Homo sapiens: one gene and its partners. The protein of the gene in region 2 purifies or fractionates together with the protein of the main gene of each other region. This does not show direct contact. Each region holds a gene or a part of one and is shown on either strand. Other genes may lie near its edges.

Region 1 (7,000 bases), on a different chromosome or scaffold from region 2:
TGAGGTTTCAAGGGTATCATAATTTGGCAAAAAGTTAACATTCTCCATCTTCTGCAATAAACACTGATTCATACATACAATCTATTCCCAAAGCTTTTAGAGATACGTACACAGAAGGCATAAATGGGAAAGAATTTATGGGTGAAAATTAATGCCTTGTAAGAAATTCATTAATTTTTTAAATATAAAGTTCAAGGTAATCACCTGTGACTGTTCTATTTCTGCTTTGTTTAATTTGATCCCAAGGATTTCAGCAGCAACTTTCTGAAAGCACAGGAAGACCTACATAACAAAAATGGGTTTAAATGATTTAAAAGAGGCATGCTTAAGTTATCTTCAAATAAACAGAATTTTCTTAAAAATGATAAACAGCAATAATTGCAAAAATATGATATAGCAGGTGATTCCAAAAATAGCTTTATTTGTCAAATGTAGCAACATTTTAAATATAATAATTTTTAAATTATAAAGCCATAATTTAAAACTCCATGCAATTCAATGAATTGATCATTTTCTCTAAACACACACATGAAAGATTTAACATGATGATTACAGCTACCACTTTAAAAAACAACAAAACAATCCTACTTACTACTATAAAAACTCCCATAATTCCTGAAGAAAATAAAAATAATCTATACTTTACCAACCTAGTTTTTCACTGTCGGTTTTATCTTGGTCCTTTTAGCCACCTTTGGCCTATCTCAAAAGGTCTTAGTTTCTAACACTTTAATACTCTCTGTGCCTTTCATATCATTCCAGCAAATTCTCCATGTTTCTTGAGTAAAGCAACTTGGTACTGTTTACTATATTTTATCAGTTCAGAGCAAAGGAAAAATATATGCCATTACGATTAAACAAAAATAGACAAATATTTTTCTATAAATAGCCTTTCCACACATAGTTAGCTTATGTCAGGTCTGCTGTAATTACTAGAGTTCCAATCCTGACATTTACTGTAGTATAACTTATCTTTTCTTCATAAATGTCCTACCATATTCTTATCCCTATTCATCACATGCTTATAGAATATTTATCAAAACTTTATTAATTTTTACTTCTAACAAAAAAGGATACATATTCCTGATAGCCTTATGCCACTTGTACCCTAAGAAGCATATTTTAGTTCACTGATGGTCAATGGTCAAGGAACAACAGGAAAAGTACTGTGGTGGAGTGGAGAGAAAGAGTGGTTATAAAAGAAGACGAGCAAAGAGATGAAGGGAGTACAAACCATGTAAAATCTGGTAGGCTACTGGAAGGACTTTGGCGTTTACTCCAAATGAAATGGAAGGCATGGGAGGGTGGCCCAATGTGACTTTTATTTTAACAGCATTAGTCTGGTTGTTTGTATTGAACATTCACTATAGGAGACCAAGTGTACAAAAACAGAATCAGCAAAGAAACTAATGTAAAATATTATGGAGGCTGAACCAAAGTGGTAGAAGTGGACAAAGTAAGAAACAGTCATCAGGTTCTGGATATATTTTCAAAGTACAGCCAAGGGGATTTGGTGACAGATGTGGGGTGTGAGAGAAAAAGAGGAGTCAAGAAAGGCTCCAAAGTTTTTTTGGCCTGAGCAACTGGTAGATCTGCTATTTATTAAAGTGAGGAAGACTGTGAGAGATTTGAGGAGGGAATAGCAAGAGCTCAGTTCTAAACATGTTAAATTGGGCAGCCTATTAGACATCTAAGAGGAGATGCTGAGCGGGCAGTTGGATATAAGAGTCTACAGTTCAGGGGAAAAGTCTGAGCAAAGCCAGAAGACTAAATAAAGCCATTAGGAATAAGTGTAGAAAAAGAGATTATCAAAGGACTGAACCTTAGTTGGCTGGAGACATAAGAAAATTAGTCAAGGGGACTGACAGAGTAGTTAGTGAAGCAGGAAGAAAACCAGGAGGCGTTGTATCCTGGAAGCTAAGTGCAGAGAGTATTTCAAAGAGACGAGAGTGATCAGCAATTATTTATGTTGCTACTTAATAAAATAAGATGAGGGCTGAGTACTGACCATTGGATTCAGCAAAAAGGAGGCCATTGATGACGTGAATAATAGCAGTTTGGGTAAAATACTGAGGGCAAAAGTCTGCTGGAACTGGAAGAGAAACTGGCAAAAGAAGAACTAGAGACAATTCTTTAAAACATCCACTGGAAAGTGAAGGAAGGAAATAAGGCAACAGCTAGAGAAAAAATGTGGCATCAAGAGTTTTCTTGTTTTTAAGATAAAAGAAGTCATAATATTTTCTGTGTTGAAAGAATAATCCAGTAGGTGGAAAAAAAATAATACATATGAAAGAGAGAGAACTGCTAAAGCAATATCCTTGATTCAGCAAAGATAAATGGGACTAGTACACAATGGAGAAGTTGGCCCTAGCTAGAATAGATCCCATAGTAACCACAGAGAAGACAGAAGATATGAGAACAGATGGGGTAAGTAGGATGAGGTTAGACCTGGTAGCAGCAGTATGTAGAAGTTGTCTTCTGTTTGTTTCAAATTTCTTATAAAATAGGAAACAAGGTCATCAGCTGATAGAATAGAGGAGGATAGTTTGAACATTTGAAGAGAGAAGAGAAGCTATGAAATAGTCATCGGCCTGGTGCATTGGCTCACACCTGTAACCCCAACACTTTGGGAGACTGAGGCGGGTGAATCACGAGGTCAGTTCAAGATCAGCCTGGCCAAGATGGTGAAACCCCATCTCTACTAAAAATACAAAAAATTAGCCAGGCGTGGTGGTGGGTGCCTGTAATCCCAGCTATTCGGGAGGCTGAGGCGGAGAATTGCTTTAACCCAGGAGGCGGAGGCTGCAGTGAGCTGAGATCGCACCACTGCACTCCAGCCCGGAGGACACAGTGAAACTCTGTCTCAAAAAAAAAAAAAAAAAAAAAAAGTCACCTAGGTGAGGGGAAGAGGTGATAGACTAGGGATATAGAGCATAATTACTGAGCAGCATTAAGGGCCCACTTGAGATTAGTGATTGTGAACTTAAAGTGAAAACTCCAGCATGCCTCTGTGTTTTTCTCTGGTCATGTTCATGGGTACACCCATGAAAAAGTGGAGACTTGGTTTAAACCAGAATTAAGGTTTAGCCAAGCGGATCTGACAAAATGAAAGAGGGAAAAGGGAACTGAGAGTATATGCATGGCAATGATTTGGACTGGCCATGAGATTTAAGCTCAGAAGAGAGAAAAATGAAGACATGAAAAGAGGTTAAGATTTTGCAAAGGTGTTAGGATCAATGTCTTGTAGGTCTTGCTAGGGTTGAGAATGGTTGTGTTAGGACACTCAAAGGTGTGAAATAGAAGATGGTTGGTGGTTAGTGATTAGGATGCCTGATACTGAGATAATAGAAGAGCCACAGTAATTTGTAATGATGTGATCTGTAGTATGCAAGAGTGACTAAGGTGGCATCAGGGAGAAACAAGGATACTGAAATCACTAAGAATTATGACATAGGAATATCAGAGAAAGTATAGTAACCCAGGAGCTCATCTCCTCAAGCAATGAGAAAGTTACCTGGAGCTAGAAATGATTACAAGTCTTAAAGTAATTTCATAAGAACAAACCATTTCAAAGTACCACTTAAAAAAAATGAAGTTTTTTAATAGTGGTTCAATATAAGCAAACAAAAAACACTAAGTGGCAAAAAAATACTAAGTGGTTAAAAACAAGCTAAAATACTACAAGTTAAAATAATTCTGAAATGGCAAAAAAAGCCCCTGGGAAGATTAAGTGAGGGTAGAAGCCCAGTGAATCCATGGATGAGTTTATCTACAATTATTGACATTACATTTTTTAAAAAGGCATGGATGGGTGAGTATGTGCCCATGTTCACATTGTCTGAGGGGAAAGGATTCCAGGAGGCCAAATTTTTTAATGGGTCTTACCAAAAGAAAGAATAAACCCCCATCATATTATTTATTTTAGGTGTAAAACTATAAAGGATATTACAGAGAAAAACATCAAAAATCTTAAACCACAGAAAAATTTCAAACTTCTTTTAGTTGAAAAATGTCAACTGGAAAAATAGTCAAATAGGGGTCAGTGATGATTATTTGAAAAAATTATGATACATGACTATTAGCACTAATATAAAAATGGTCATAGAAAATTTCTAAATACAATAGAAAGTTATAACAAGTAAAAAGCAGAAAGTGAATAACTAATAAAACTTTTAAAATTTCAACCTCAATTATAATCAAAGAAATTCAAATTTAAATAGTGAAGTATCTTTTTTCTTTTTTGGGGCCTACCAATTTGACAAAGATTTTAAAATAAATACATAGATAAATCCTGAATGTTAAAAGGATGTAGTTATGGCAATCATACAATGCTGGTGATAGCATGAATTTAGTCTTTCTGGTGGTGATTTGGCAATGTTTCAATCTCCTTTCAAGGAATCTACCTAAAGAAAATAATCAAAACACCAAAAGCTTACGGACAAAATTTTACATTAGAACATTATGTTCAAAACTTAACAACCTATATGTTCCACAATAAGAATAAGATTGAATAAATTTCTGAACATTTATTAAATGAATTATTCAATCTATTATTAAATGACATGGGAACAATAAAAATATTAAGTAAAAAGTAAAATATAAAATTATTTCTATATTATAATCTTAATTTTTAAAAATAAATATAGGGTTGTGACTGTGAGCCCCAGAGTGTCACTATTTGCCTTCACAAATCCTCTCTCCTCCACTTATTAGCCGTGTAATCTGGACCCCATTACATAATTTCTCTAAGACTCATCTATAAAATGGAGATAATCAGAGTAGTACAATATCTATAATAAAGTAAGCACTCAATGAATGCCATCTCCTAGCCACAGGCAGCAGCACTAGTGTGAGCATCAGGAAAAGAGACTAGATGGAATCATATGAGGTTATGAGTGGTTATCTCTAGATACTGACATTACGGGTGGTTTATATTCATTTTAATTCCCCTTTTAAAAATAACTAAAATTATGTTAAATAAATTATAAAAGTAATATAACCAGAATAAACATGTTATATCTAATCTAAGGAATTTCATGTTTTCAATAGGAATTAATTTGCTCCAAAAGTTAAATAGTGGAAGTATACTTCCTAGGAATGTTAGTAAATAAAAGGAAAACATCACATACAGTATTCATTATTTTACTTACAGAGTCTCCTGTCTTGGCTGAGACAAAGTGGCTACTAAAACCATTTTCCTGGCAAAACCGTAAGTGTTTTTCAGGTTTTATTGTTCGCATATGCTCCAAATCAACTAGAAAGGTGTTAAAGAAAGAAAATAATTCAATATTAGAGTCTATCAAAACGTTTTTAACATGTTTAAATTTGACTTGCTTTCCAATATTATATTCCAGCTTCGACATCAGCTGTGCAACCTTGGACAATTTATTAAACCTCTTTATGACTCAGTTTCCACATCTATAAACTGGGAATAATAAATATACCTATTTTGTAGAGAGTTATTTGATAATTAATCTATGTATAATGCACAAAGACCAGCACAGAAGTGCTAAAAAAAAAATGTGCGCTATCATTATTATTATCATCTGTATAAGTTCAGGCACACTGATGATGCTCAACAAAGATCTACTTAATATAGTACATTTAAACATGGTGATTAATTGAAGGCAAGTTGTACTTACCCAAGCATATTTGGCTTGAAAGAGTTTAATTACTTTAATAATTAGCTCTGTAATCTCTATAAGCTTGAATGTTAGCACAAATACATAACTTTCTGCTTAAGAGATCAATATTACATTGTGTGTTTACATTAATTTATAGCCATACTTTAATTTCACAAAGACATAGTTCAGTTGTTTTCCATCTAGAGTATCCATTTTGAGAGTAAGGGGCAAGGATGTATTTCCTTAAATAGTTGTAGGTGCTTTAAAGCAAGGCACAGTACTCATATCCAATACTGGTTTTATCCAGCACAGTGTATTTTTCCAAATGTGATCCTTTATTTAACAGTTTCTCTTTTTACAACACTACAGACCCTATAAGGGTGTTGATTCAATGCCGTCAAATTATAAGGCAAATATATTCACAGGATTTAAGGACAACTAGGCTCTTTGAGTCAATATAGGAAAAAAAAAACTTAAACTGATTTCCTGAGGAAGGGACCCAAATGACTTGTAAAAACTTGTAAATTTGCAAATCTAGTAAGCCTACATAATAGTGCCAATTGATTATCAACTAAAAAATGCACTCATACTACATAAAAGACTTTATTTAAAATTATATTGAAAGTCTTTAGTTTGTAGGCTCAAGGGTTCTCTCTCTAGGAGATTTTTTTTAATCTAATGGGGTATTCCTGAGCCCCATTTATATTGCTTACCTTGGAAAATATGGAATTTTTTTTTTTTTTTTTTTTTTTGAGACAGAGTCTTGCACTGTCACCCGGGCTGGAGTGCAATGGCATGATCTCGGCTCACTGCAACCTCTGCCTCCTGGGTTCAAGCAATTCTCCTGCCTCAGCCTCCCAAGTAGCTGGGATTACAGGCGCCTGCCACCACGCCCGGCTAATTTTTTGTATTTTTAGTAGAGATGGGGTTTCACTACGTTGGCCAGGTTGGTCTTGAATTCCTGACCTCAAATGATCCACCCACCTCGGCCTCCCAAAGTGCTAGAATTACGGGCGTGAGCCACAGCACCTGGTCTTTTTGTTTTGCTTTGTTTTGTTTTTTTTGCTCTTCTGGCCAGAGTGCTATTCCTTAAACATCACTATCTCCTTATTTACAAGAACAGGCAAGGAATGTCCAGATACCACAGGCATCAATTTGTGGAAGACTAAAATACTAAGCTATTAGCACTGACATTTATATATCCAATTTATCATAATATTGGAGCTAACTTTTCTAATTCAACAAGAGTAAGAACAAATCTTGTCACGAGGAAAAATCCCCATTGAAATCGCCACCCATTGAAATCACCATCCATTAAAAAATAAATAAATAAAAATAAAAGTTGTGTCACTTAATGTGTGTGTACATTTGTTTTT
Region 2 (5,281 bases):
TTTTTTTTTGTAACAGGGTCTTACTTTGTCGCCCAGGCTGGCATGCAGTGGCACAATCATGGCTCACTGCAGTCTTGACCTCCCTAGCTCAAGTGTGATCTTCCCATTCAGCCTCCTGAGTAGTTGGGACCACAAGCATACACCACCATGCTTGGGTAAATTTTTTTTTTTTTAGAGATGGGGTCTCACTATATTGCCCAGGCTGGTCTCAAACTCCTGGTCTAAGTGATCCTCCTGCCTCAGCCTCCCAAAGTGGTGGGATTACAGACATGAGCCACTGTGATTGACCTCTTTTTTTTTTTTTTGAGACAGTCTAACTCTGTTGCCCAGGCTGGAGTGCAGTGACACAAACTTGGCTCACTGCAACCTCTGCCTCCTGGGTTGGAGCAATTCTCCTGCCTCAGCCTCCCAAGTAGTTGGGATTACAGGTGCCTGCCACCATGCCCGGCTAATTTTTGTATTTTTAGTAGAGACAGGGTTTCACTATGTTGGCCAGGCTGGTATCAAACTCCTGACCTTGTGATCCGCCTGCCTCGGCCTCCCAAAGTGCTGGGATTACAAGCGTGAGCCACTGCGCCCGGCCAGACCTCTTTTCTTTTTCTTTTTTTGCTAATAAAACAGTTAAGACAATTGTCCATTTTATTTGTTAAATTGCTAAAAAGTCATCAGGGGAAAACATTAACAAAAAATGAAATTGACAGATTTAAATATCAATGAAATCCATGTTTCATTCCTACACTGTTATGTGCCCAAAATGACTATCTCAGGGTAAGCCACCTGGCATCCCTGAGTTGTATGGGAAACATCACTCACAGCACCAGCTTCGCCAGGGCACATGGGGTGTGCACTGACATGAACCCTGGTTGGAGGGAGGGGAGCAGAGCAAGTAGAGTGTACAATGGAGCCAACACCTAAAGTTTGCTCTCATTTGACAATGAACACGGTGAGAGGGAGCCACTTACTGGTAACCATGCAGAACATGCCTTCTGCAGTTCATGGAGAGGCTACATGGGACGCAGGCCTGGAAATTCAGCTTCCTCACCACCAGGCGTGGTTAGATCCTCCCCACTGACTTGTGCGCTGGTAAGAGACCATGGATAATGCAAAGTGGAGCATATCACCATGCCAGGATCACCACAAGGACAAGGACAGACAGACAGACCAACCAGGAATACCACTTTTAAGGGGGAAGGAAAGAGTGAAGCAGAAGGAAACCCAGAATGACAAGGTGAAAGAAAGGAAAGGGAAACATCTCTTTGTTCTCCATTGGCTGGTGGCTTTCTGTCCTCCAAAGTCAAGGCTTCTTAAGTTGGTTTTCTTTCTTCCTCCTCCTCCTCCTCTTTTCTTTATTTTAAAGAGTTCCAACACAGTTCCTAGAATAGTTCATGGTTTTCAGCTGTTGCTGTAAAACTCGAACATTAAAATCAAATCAATCCACAGACAGCTGGGAGGAGAGTAAGCCCAGTATGCCCTAAAATGAAATTTAAGCTTGTTTCAACACCAAATTTGTGCTCCCAAAGTGTAGGGTAGGGTGAGGTTGTGGAGTCCACCAACCAAATGAAGGGTGGAAATAGGAATGAAAACACAAAACCCGCTCTGCTGTATAACCTGTGAAATAAGAGAACAGGAAGCTCTGTCCAAGAGGGTAGGGAGAGACTAAAATTCTTAAGTAAGATGGACAAGGTGACCAGTGAAGTCACTAGGCCATGGGAGCTCTCAAAAGGCACACTTGCAGGAATGGAAGGGGTTAAAGCTTCAAGTAGAAACAAAATGAATTTTCAATAAATACGGATAAATATTTGCTTCAGGTGCTCCTGAGGGTTAAAAAAAATTTAGTCTCATTTTTCTCAGTGAATTTTAAGACAAAATTGGTATCATGTGAAAAATGGGGTCATGGTTCAATCTGGCCTGACTGCAGCATCCACGGCATTGTGGAAATGCTCGCCTTGGCCGAGACACGTGAAGTCCCACCGCACAGGTGGCTTCAGGAGGCCTGAGGAGACAATCACCTTCACTGTGTTGAATCACTTTCCCATGGTACACGCCCACAGTGCCCAGGAGCTACCAAGACCAACCATAATGGGGGCAGACAAGGCAGATTTTTCTTAAAAAGCTGTAAGCAAACAGTCTGGTTCCAGGCAGTATGCGTCAAACTGGAATTCAATGGAGTTCAGAGGAACCAGATTACTTTCTAAGACAATCAACATATCTGTTGCCTGCCTACTTGGGGGAAGTGGAAGGAATCAACACGTTAACAGCTGGCTTAGGAAGGCCACAGGACTAAGGGAAAGACTGTAAGGTTGAGATTCTGTACTTTCAGGTTTCTAATATACTTTATATTTAGATAGGAACTACTGAGTTTGGAGGCACAGTCCATGCACAAACACAATGTCCTAACACAAGGTACAGCAATAGCGGTAACACCTGAATTGCTAGCCTTCTGGCCCAGCTTTCCCTTGTAAATAAGGACCCCACATGATCGAACAGTCTTTGCCAAGCAAGGATTGGCAACAGCACCAGAGCCTGAGTCGCGAAAGGGAAGTGTGGAGCTCCAAGCAGTTGGATGCCACATAAGTAGACACATGTTGTTTCCTCATTGAAGGGAACACAAAGAGCAGTTTCTGGAACACATACCCCTCCCCACAAGCTAGGCTTGGCACCAGGGTGGCTTTCCTACGAAGACCACATCATAAAAGCTAATGGCTAAGGGAAAGGATTCAGCATGATGTAACAGGAGAAAACACACTTATCAGTACACTTAGGCTGCCAGATGCTGGCTGAAAGCCAGGACCCAGGGCCAGCTGCAGCAGGCTTTGTGCCTGAGAAACGCTAATAATAAAAAGAGGAGTGTCAGGGTGGCAAGGTGATGTTTTGAAATTAGGATTTAAATTTCAAAACAAAACAAAGGCAAAACAAAAATCCTCTTTCCACTGATGAGAAATCACCAAAAATCCCTATTTAAATGGTGCCATTTGAAATAAACTTATTTTGACATCTCCTATGCCCAGGCCATGGTTGAGACTAGTAACTTTCTGTATCAAGCAAAGAAATGCTCTACTTGGTTACACCTTAATCTCAGAAATGAAGTGAAAGTAAAAACCCAAGCCCTATTTGGGTGACACATGAAGAAGACAAGTGCAAAGGATGGAGCTGTTTCTGAGGTCAGCCATGCGTCAAGAAGTCAAGTACATGATTCTCAACTCCATCACCTGCCAATAGCCAGGAAGAGGAATATATGTCACCACAAGGAAAAAAACATTTCTAAAAAGAACTGTTATTGGAATTCCCTTCCAGAATCAATTTCCACATTCTACAAATATGGGATGAGTGTGCTCAATGTGCTTTGGAAGTAAAAAGAAGCCCATAGGGAAAAAACAGTATCTTTTGATGCTTGCTTCAAAGATTTCTCACAATATTGGCATCTTAGAATTCCCTACTGGCCCCCTAGTGACACCAGGGAAAGGGTTCCACAAGTATTTCTAAGCAGCTTCTGATTTCTGTAGGCACCTGAGCTTTGTAAAAGAAACAGAAAGTCAGACAGGTTTTAGGACTTCACCACATATGAAAAAAAAAAAAGAAAAGAAAAAAGGTAGAAGAAAAAAGCAGCCTGTAAGTGAATGGAAAAGGCAGTTTCCAAGTACCATGTTCTAAGGGAAGAAAGAGGAGAATAAATATGTTTTTTGGCAACTTGCCACCAAATATGATTGATTGTCAGAAATTTCCACAATCAGACACAAAATGTTTTCTGAGACACACAAGAAGCACTCCAAAGACCAATGGACACTACTAGGCGGTCAGATGTTGGCTGCATAAACATTATTTCACAATGACCCGGCACACAAATGTGGAATAAAATCCTTTGTTGGGTAACTTTCCTCAGCCATAAAAGGCAAGAGGGGGCCAGGCACTGGCATTTCTGCAGAGCTGTCACAGGTCCTCTGTGGTTTTAAGAGAAGGGGAAAAACAGTTACTTTTACCCCGACAGCACCTGAAGCATGAGAGTCTAAAACCCTCCACCTTTGCAACTTACATATGCCCTTTCATTTTTTAACTCCAAGAAGGCCACATAAAGATTTACAGGGGGCTCTTCAGTTTCTTTTGGGAAGTTACTGATGTTAGTCTATTCTCTAACTTCTTGGTCTAGTTACCAGCAAGGTAGAAAAAGGCAGCCCAGCCCCTGTTAAAACACAGCAACAACTTTATCTGAACCAGGATGGAAATCTCTCCCTTTTTTTGTCAACAGAGTTGGCTATATAATATATATATATATATTTATATATAATTTTTTTTCTTAATGGAGATTTGATCCCAGCCTGGAGTGACTTCGGTTGGGAATTAAAGAGTTTTGGCTTCTGGGAGTAATTTTGTTTTCCCAATTCTCAGTCCAAATGCTTACACACTGGAAAATTCCAAATTAAAAGCCACAGAAAAGGAAAGGGGTTTAGAACACATTATCTCTTTGCTCGTACAAAGTACAAGGCGTTTGTTTTTGGATAGTACTTCACATTCTGTTTCTTGTCCATGAGTCCTCCAAATATGATGAGTTCACCCCTGCCTTGTACCACGGTATGCAGGCTGGTTTCAGGAGGTCCAACCACAGAACTGCTATTAAATACTTTCCATTTGACCCGCCCCTTCTCCTTGGTGTCTTTAATGTCCAGCACGTACATCTGCATGGGCTTGCAGTTCATACTCTGGTATAGGGGTTTGCCAACATTTAGGGACTGTGGAGGGTGGTGGCCCAGGCGGCGAGCAATGGGAGGTAAGGAATGTCCATCTCCTTGGGCAGGCCCTGGGCGAGGGATGGGCACTGTTTCTCCACTGCTCAAACTCTGGCTCCCAGGAGAGCCTGGAGAAGACCCAAGAGGAGGACTTAGTGCTGCAGAGGCCGAGGGGCCTTTGGAGGACATCGCTTTGATGGCTTCCAGACTCCGACGCAGGGCACCTGGGGAGACGGCCCCTGCAAGGGCACTGGCCACGTGAGGTGGGGTATGCACACCATTTGTCTGTTCAGGAGGGTGTCTCATACTTCCCCCAACTGTCCTATTGTCCATGCCATCCATGGGATTACTACTGGAAGCGGGTTTCAGATCCCAATTCAGATCTATGGATCCTAATCTCAGATCTTTCTGATCTGGTAGTGATCCTCGTCGGGGGGCCAAAGAAAGTCCTATTTTCAGGTCGTATCCTTCAGGAGCAGATGGAGTACTTGGAGATATGGCCTGTACAGGACTGTCCAAAGAAGAGCCACCCACAGCTGCCGTTCCTGGAGACAAACTCC
Region 3 (7,000 bases), on a different chromosome or scaffold from region 2:
AAATGTTGGTAATACCCTATATTTGGTAAAGTTATTAATTCTACAGGCATGAAACTAGTGAAACCAGAGGCTACGTACGCTGTAACTGAGCAGCTCTCAGTTGCTTCTTCAGCCGTTCCACTTCATTCTTTAAAAACCTGATGTGACGCATCATATTTTCTGGAGAATCAATCTCCATGGAGATATCTCTAGGCGATGGTGGAGCAGAGACGGGCTGGTCTAATTTTTCCTGCAGGATTCTTCATTGAAAAGAAAAATTCCAACAATGACTAACAGTTTTCCTTGAAAAGACAAAACAACATACTAGCTGGCAGGTTTGTTTTAAAAGCAAACTCCTGTTTACTGCCAGAATTCACAGGGTTGCTTAATTCCTCTGCCCATTTTACATCAAACTTCTGCCCTTACGTGGTGTCTCACTTCAAAGGGCAGAGCTGATTCTAATCTCCCTTTTTCCTTTTAAATGACTATTAAATGTTTTAAATTAAACAATACTGAAAAGTCTTTATTTAACAACAGGATCTGATAATTATGCCTGGAATACAGTATGCACTTAGAAATACCTGCTGACTCAATGTTCAACTTCTTGGGTTTAGTGCATGAAGATGCTGAGGAAATTCCATTTTCTTACGGCTTTTGATTGAAGCTTCTAAGCTACTATGAATCTCCTTGGAGGGTAAAGTAACACAGAGACTCAACTTCTAAAATTCCCTCCTGCAAAACTAATTGCAAGGGCATGGCAAACTGGACTAGCGGCCCTTTGCTTTTGGCCACAGCAAAGGTAAAAAGTTAAAAACAAAACCAAAATTGTTAGGTTAATAATTAGTAGTGCCACCTTCTTTACCAATTATTTTTATGTTGAAGGATATAAAATACTGATATTCAATAGCTCTGACCTACAAAATGCAAACTTCCATACTGTTCAACCCAATAATTTGGCACTAATACATGTAAAACCTCCAACTGCCTTTTACAAAGTCTTCCTTTGGCAGCAGATCTCTAAATCCCTTTCCATAGCTGCTGGGGTTTTTGTTTTGTTTTTGCTTTGTACCTTTGAGTTTGTCCAGGAGCAAACTGAGTTACCTCCATCCAGGTCTACCCTTGAGAAAACTAGTGTGTTAAATATTATAATGGTCCCTGCATTTATTACATAAAATGACTTTTCGTAATTCAACTTATTAGTACTGCTACAATAATACCTATCAGTAAAGCATAGTGGATATGATTATAACAAGTATTTCTTATAGATATAGCTCTAATTTTCACTTTTCTTAAAGCTATGTGGTATGCCTGTATTTTGCAAATGTAGACATGAACTCAAAACAATTACAAATATGCATCCAAACCAAATACTTAAGGAGGAAGGGCTCTGGGTAGCAAACAAAAGATCTTGGTGAAGTAGATTAATGACCATTTTTAAGAAACTCACTTTTTACACCCGTACACACATTCCACATACAGAATCTTCTTCCCATTCTTACAAGCCCTGCCTCACACACTCCAAAGTACTCAGTGCTTGAAAATAAGGGCTTAACTATCTTGCACAAAGAGGTTTAAGAAATGTTTGCTGTTGAGTGACATTCCACTTCCAAGTACATACATTTTATATAAAGAATCCTAGCCTTAAGTATGTAAAGGTATTTCTTTACAGTAGGTTTTAAAACAATTTTATTATTAAAATCTCAGGCTTCCTAAAGAAGTAAATTCCAGAGATGTATAAATAATAGTACGCAGTATACCCTATGTACTTTACAAAACAACTGAGGAAGCCAGTTCAATAAGGTGGAAAGTTGAAATTGCAACCATTCTTGAAAATACTTTAAAGGTGAACAATAGCAGCATGACTAATTCTCTCATAGCCTTGTAACACCAAATGAAAAGAAATTCTACTGGGACAGTATGATAGCAAAGAATAAAGAGGTGCCCAACATGGGAATAGTTCAGAAGGCTTTCAACATTTTTTTTCCTTTGGCCAATTAAAATGATGTGCATCACCAAAGAATTAAGGTGTCCTACTGCTATTCCTCAGTCACACCCAGAGCAGCAACACACACACACACACACACACACCCATACTGAACAGCAAGACTAAACAAACCGCTTTTCAGCTTCAAGCTTATCCATCCTTTTCCAGAGGCGATTAACTAGTGCTTCTTGTTCTTGTTCCAATGTATTTTCAAGGTCAATCTTCTCCCGTCTCAACTAAAGGAAGGAAAAAAGTGTTACCAAAGTGTCAGGCCACTTATACTTTGTTAATACATTTTTTGATTGAACAATTAGGACCCCTTTTCTTGGAGAATACTGCAAACATGTGGCCAATTTTCTGGCACAAACATATTAAGTGCATCTAGTTCTTAAACTTTGAAAAAAACTAGATAGGTTCATTCTTGGATGTTAATGCTTAATTGTTGTCTGGTACATGAAATGCATTGCTTGTTTCAGCATTTATTCAAGGCAAGTGGAAAGTCCTCCTTAGAGAGGTCTTTAGGGGAGTTCGGTGTACTAGTCATATCAGGACTTTTCTGGGCTTGTCCCTTACAGTTCTGGGCTTACAGTTATTCTTCCGGGCTTGTCCCTTACAGTAAGTCAGAAAGGTTATATTACTATTCATATAAATAACTCTTAAAAGCTCCCAAACACTCTACATACTGGCTAATGGAGATAAATAAACATGTACTAAGATATAAAAACACGCACAAAATATGATAAACACCAAATCCACAATACTGGTTACTCTAGGTTACTCTAAGGATTTAGGGAAGGAAGAAAATTTGATTTGGGGGAGGCTTTGCAGTTGCGGAGGGAACCCCAACAGTGTTCTATTTCAATGAAGCAAACATGGGAAAATTCAATTAATCAATATTGAGCAATATGTAATAAATACTGAGAACAATGACTGGATAATGGGGGCATAGCAGTGAATCAAGGAGTCAGGAATTTCTGCCCTCATGGATCTTCCTTTTAGTGGGGGTCAAGACAGTAAATGAAACAATTATATACTTGTGAAACAGTATGAAACAGATATGTAGAAAAAGAGGGCTGGTAAGAGAGACTGAAAGTGCAAGAGGTTTCATAGCAATGAGTAGAGGACATGTATTCTATCATTCTCCGTACTTGACATATTAAATAATTAAAAATTTTTTCTTAATGCAAAGAGCCTATGCTACTGCTTCCATGTTATTTCTTCAACCAGTGGCAATTCACCTTTCAATGGTTGAGTCAACAAATTATTCTTGATTGCACAAAGATGTTAATAGATTCCACATTTCCTTAGTGGGTCACAGAGGCAAGCTCCTCATCCAAAGATCCCGTGTGTATACATAAGGCAGAACCAAAAACATGAATAAAATGTAGTCTTTTAAAGCAATCAAACATCAGAAAATAATATCCAAAGTGCGGTTTTACTTTTACAGCCAAATGACATTCCCCTTTCTGAAACTCTTCGTAGCTTAGTCTTAAGAAGCAACAATCTCAACCTCCCGAGATGGTTAGTACTACCAACACCACCCAAGGTCCTTAAGGAGCTCACAGAGAGCAAAAGACTTGCCCATATTCACACAGGAGCACAGGACAGCCAATGAAGGTGAGCAGCTACTTGTTCCACATCTGAGCCAGAATGAATATGCATAAAATCAGCTGCCTCAGAACCTGAACAATCAAGACCTGAGAGGAAATGATATAAGGATAATGATATCATTATGTTCTAAGTTTAGAGAAAAAAAGGAGGTCTCAAACAGATGGGAAAAACTCTCCTGTGACGACACAGCTCTAGGCTTTTCTTTTCTCCTCTCAAAGCCATAAAAATAGCTGTAGAAACAACTGGCCATTTGAATATTTAAAATATTTCCTACAAACAGGTACAGTCACAAAACAGCAGCCAATGCATTGGGGGGAGACTCCTGTAATTACACTTCTGTCTTATGATCATAGACTTTGAGCCAAATGCCTAGGTTCAAATCCCAGCTCCATCAATCACTAGTTAGAAAATGTTGAGAAAATTACTAGATATAATTTTACCATTTGCAAAGTAAGGGACAAAAATAATGTCTGGCTCATTGGATTACAGTGAGCATTACATTTGTAAATCTAGGTAAACCATTGATAACTAATGGGCACTTAGAAAGCACTCAACACTTTTTGGCTATGATAATCACTATATCTGGATATCCGTTCTATTTCTGTTCCAGCCCTCCACAATGTAAGTCCTACAAGGGACTTGTCTTGTCTGTTTCATTCCTTAGTACATCCTCAGTATCTAGAATAACATCTGGCACCTTATAGGCCATCAATATATATTAGAGGGCTTATTTGACAAGTGAATAAGCCATGATTATGTAGCAAACTGGAAACAGAGCTTCAAAATATGTTGTTTTTGCATGGCAGAATTTGATTCTGAAGAACAGTTCAAGGGCAAAAAGGAGGAGGTGCAGGGTGTCAAAATAAGTCAAATATATTGTGCCGCAAAGTTGGGACCCCACTAACGTGCAAATGCTCCTCAGAATGTTAAACAATTCCTACCTGCAGCAACAATGAGAAATTGTGGGACCCTTATATGACTCCTATTAAACCTTGTGATTCTCTGCATTCATCATACACTTTGGCCAAGCTTTGAAGTACAATCCACAGTCATTTCTTTTCTTTTCTTGAGACAAGGTCTCGCTCTGTTGCCCAGGCTGGAGTGCAGTGGCACGATCATGGATCACTGTAGCCTTAACCCACTGGGCTCAGGCATTCCTCCTGCTTCAGCCTCCCAAGTGGCTGGGACTACAGGCACACACCACCACACCTGGTTAATTTTTTATTTTTTGTAGAGATGAGTTCTTGCTACGTTGCCCAGGCTGGTCTTGAATTCCTGGCCTCAAGCAATCCTCTGTCTAGGCCTCCCAAAGTGTTGAGATTACAGGTGTGAGCCACTGCCCCCAGCCTCAGAATTATGTTTATTTAAACAAATAACTATGAGGCATTTACCTTTAAGGATCCCAATTCCAGTGTTTAAAAGCATCATAGGAGGTAGAGGTAGTTGATAAGCAAGAAAAAAATTCAAGCAGGCATCATTTTGCGGTATGATGTCTAGTGGAGAAATGCATACTCAATTACTTTTAGAGTAAATACTCATAATACTAATCAATAACTCTGAGAAGCAAAATCAAGACAAAGCTGTCTTTACCCATATGTAACTAATGAGGCATGTGACTCTGAGCAGGTCACTCAGCTGCTGTAGCTCCGATGCCCTCATCTATGAAATGAGAAGTTTGGCCTGGATGATGCCTGTGGTCCCTTTCTGGCCTATCCATTCTGTCATTCCCTGCCCAATGTCAAGACAGTAGCTGTCTTCAGTCGGGGCTAGTTCCGTCACACGCATTTAGAGCCAGAAGCAGCATGGCAAATCATCATTTTAAAGCTGAGGAAACCACTAGCCTGCAAGATGACATGACTCAGGCAGTCATGCCACCAAGATAGGAACGGATATCGGTCACCATGGCAGCCAAAATTGCTGGGTCCTGTCCAACCAGCAAGTACAGAGGAACTTGAGGGAAACATGGATTTAGGGCAAATCAAGCTGTGGTTTGTGGGCCTATCTCCTTTGCCAACAATACTTGGGAGTAGCAGAGTTGGGGGTAGCTGATGCCAGGGAAATAAGGACAGTTTAGGGAGTCTATGAGCGATTTTGGAAACAGACGAGATCAGGAAACATGGGTTGGAGCTCTACGTGAATCTCGGCTCCTTCCTGGCATCTGTTGGTAGAGTTACCAGCTATCAATCTACTGCCCACCTCAGCAAACGTGGGCACCCTGAGTGTGAAACTTGGGTTTGCTGTCCCAATTTGCTCTACTAATTTATTTCCATGATGCAGGCAACACAGGAAGCCCCAGCTCAGCCGTGTGGATTCTCAAGTACAGTAGGTCCTTGAATGTTCAACGTCCTTTTATTATAATGTTGACGGGGGGGGGGGAAGCAGATTCTCAGTGGGGCCTCTGTCTATGTAGGGTTCACATGTTCTCCTTATGTCTGTGTGGGTTTTCTCCAGATACTCGAGTTTACTTCCATGTCCCAAAGATGTGCAATCGGCATGTCTACATAGTCCCTCTGGAGTGAGTAAGAGTGTGTGTATGAGTGTGTCCTACAATGAGTTGGTGCCCCATCCAGGATTGGGTCCTGCTTTGTGCCCTGAGCTGCCAGGACAGGCTCCAGCCACCCTTGATCTGAACTGGAATAAGCACGTTAGAAAATGAATGAGTACAAATTATTGTAAAATACAAATTCATAAAGTATATGCTAATCATACAAACACATGAAAATCAATGATGCAGTATGCAAGTATTCAGCAAGCCGCTGTAATTGTTACTATTTGCTTTTGAACTGTGAGTTGGGAGGAGGTGCTCCTTACAATTTTTACTTTGCAAACATTTATCCCTTGATTTAACACATCACTACTATGACCATCACTCACTGATTCACTAAAAATGGGGTAATTATACGGTTTTCATTAATCTTTAATATATGCATAACTCATATTTGTTTCAATATTTAATATCAGAAGTATGTTGGGTCTTTATTTAGAAGTGTGATAATGTTTTTGTGACCAGAAATATGTCATAGGAACTTAACTCTTGTTTATATCAATCAGCTTCTGGTAAAATTGATTTTCATATATGTTGTTTCACTTAAAGTCAGTTTCCAAGAACTATACTGACAATGTTAAGTGAGGACTTACTGTATTTCATTACATAGGCTGGCAGTGCTACAGGACTCTATATTATCTTTAACCCTGAAAAGAGCAGGGCCTCTTGTTTTTTCAGTTTTAAAAATCTCAACTTTTCAGCATTGTTGAGGAGCTCTGGCTGACATTAAAGAGCAGAGAAGTTAGAGGAAATCATATTGAGTCCCTTGGTTAATTTCCCCTGAAGTTCTTTATCAGTTTCCCCACCACTTCCTGCCCACCTAATTCCAAATCCTATATACTTAGAGCCAAAGTGAACATAACAGTTCCGCCAATTAAAAC

What was found. The genes of interacting proteins can lie anywhere in the genome.
Region 1: the proteins of FBXO42 (region 2) and RAB28 purify together in Homo sapiens (affinity purification with mass spectrometry; 2 studies listed by BioGRID and IntAct, with this or other methods). This does not show direct contact.
Region 3: the proteins of FBXO42 (region 2) and CCDC6 purify together in Homo sapiens (affinity purification with mass spectrometry; 2 studies listed by BioGRID and IntAct, with this or other methods). This does not show direct contact.

What each region holds. Positions count from the first base shown.
Region 1 is NC_000004.12:13,376,341-13,383,340, forward strand, and holds part of RAB28 (ras-related protein Rab-28), read right to left. Parts: intron 5,255-7,000; coding exon 5,151-5,254; intron 283-5,150; coding exon 205-282; intron 1-204.
Region 2 is NC_000001.11:16,246,219-16,251,499, forward strand, and holds the end of FBXO42 (F-box only protein 42), read right to left. Parts: coding exon 4,452-5,281; 3' UTR 622-4,451; downstream 1-621. UniProt on the Homo sapiens protein: Substrate-recognition component of some SCF (SKP1-CUL1-F-box protein)-type E3 ubiquitin ligase complex. Specifically recognizes p53/TP53, promoting its ubiquitination and degradation.
Region 3 is NC_000010.11:59,812,557-59,819,556, forward strand, and holds part of CCDC6 (coiled-coil domain-containing protein 6), read right to left. Parts: intron 2,200-7,000; coding exon 2,096-2,199; intron 240-2,095; coding exon 79-239; intron 1-78.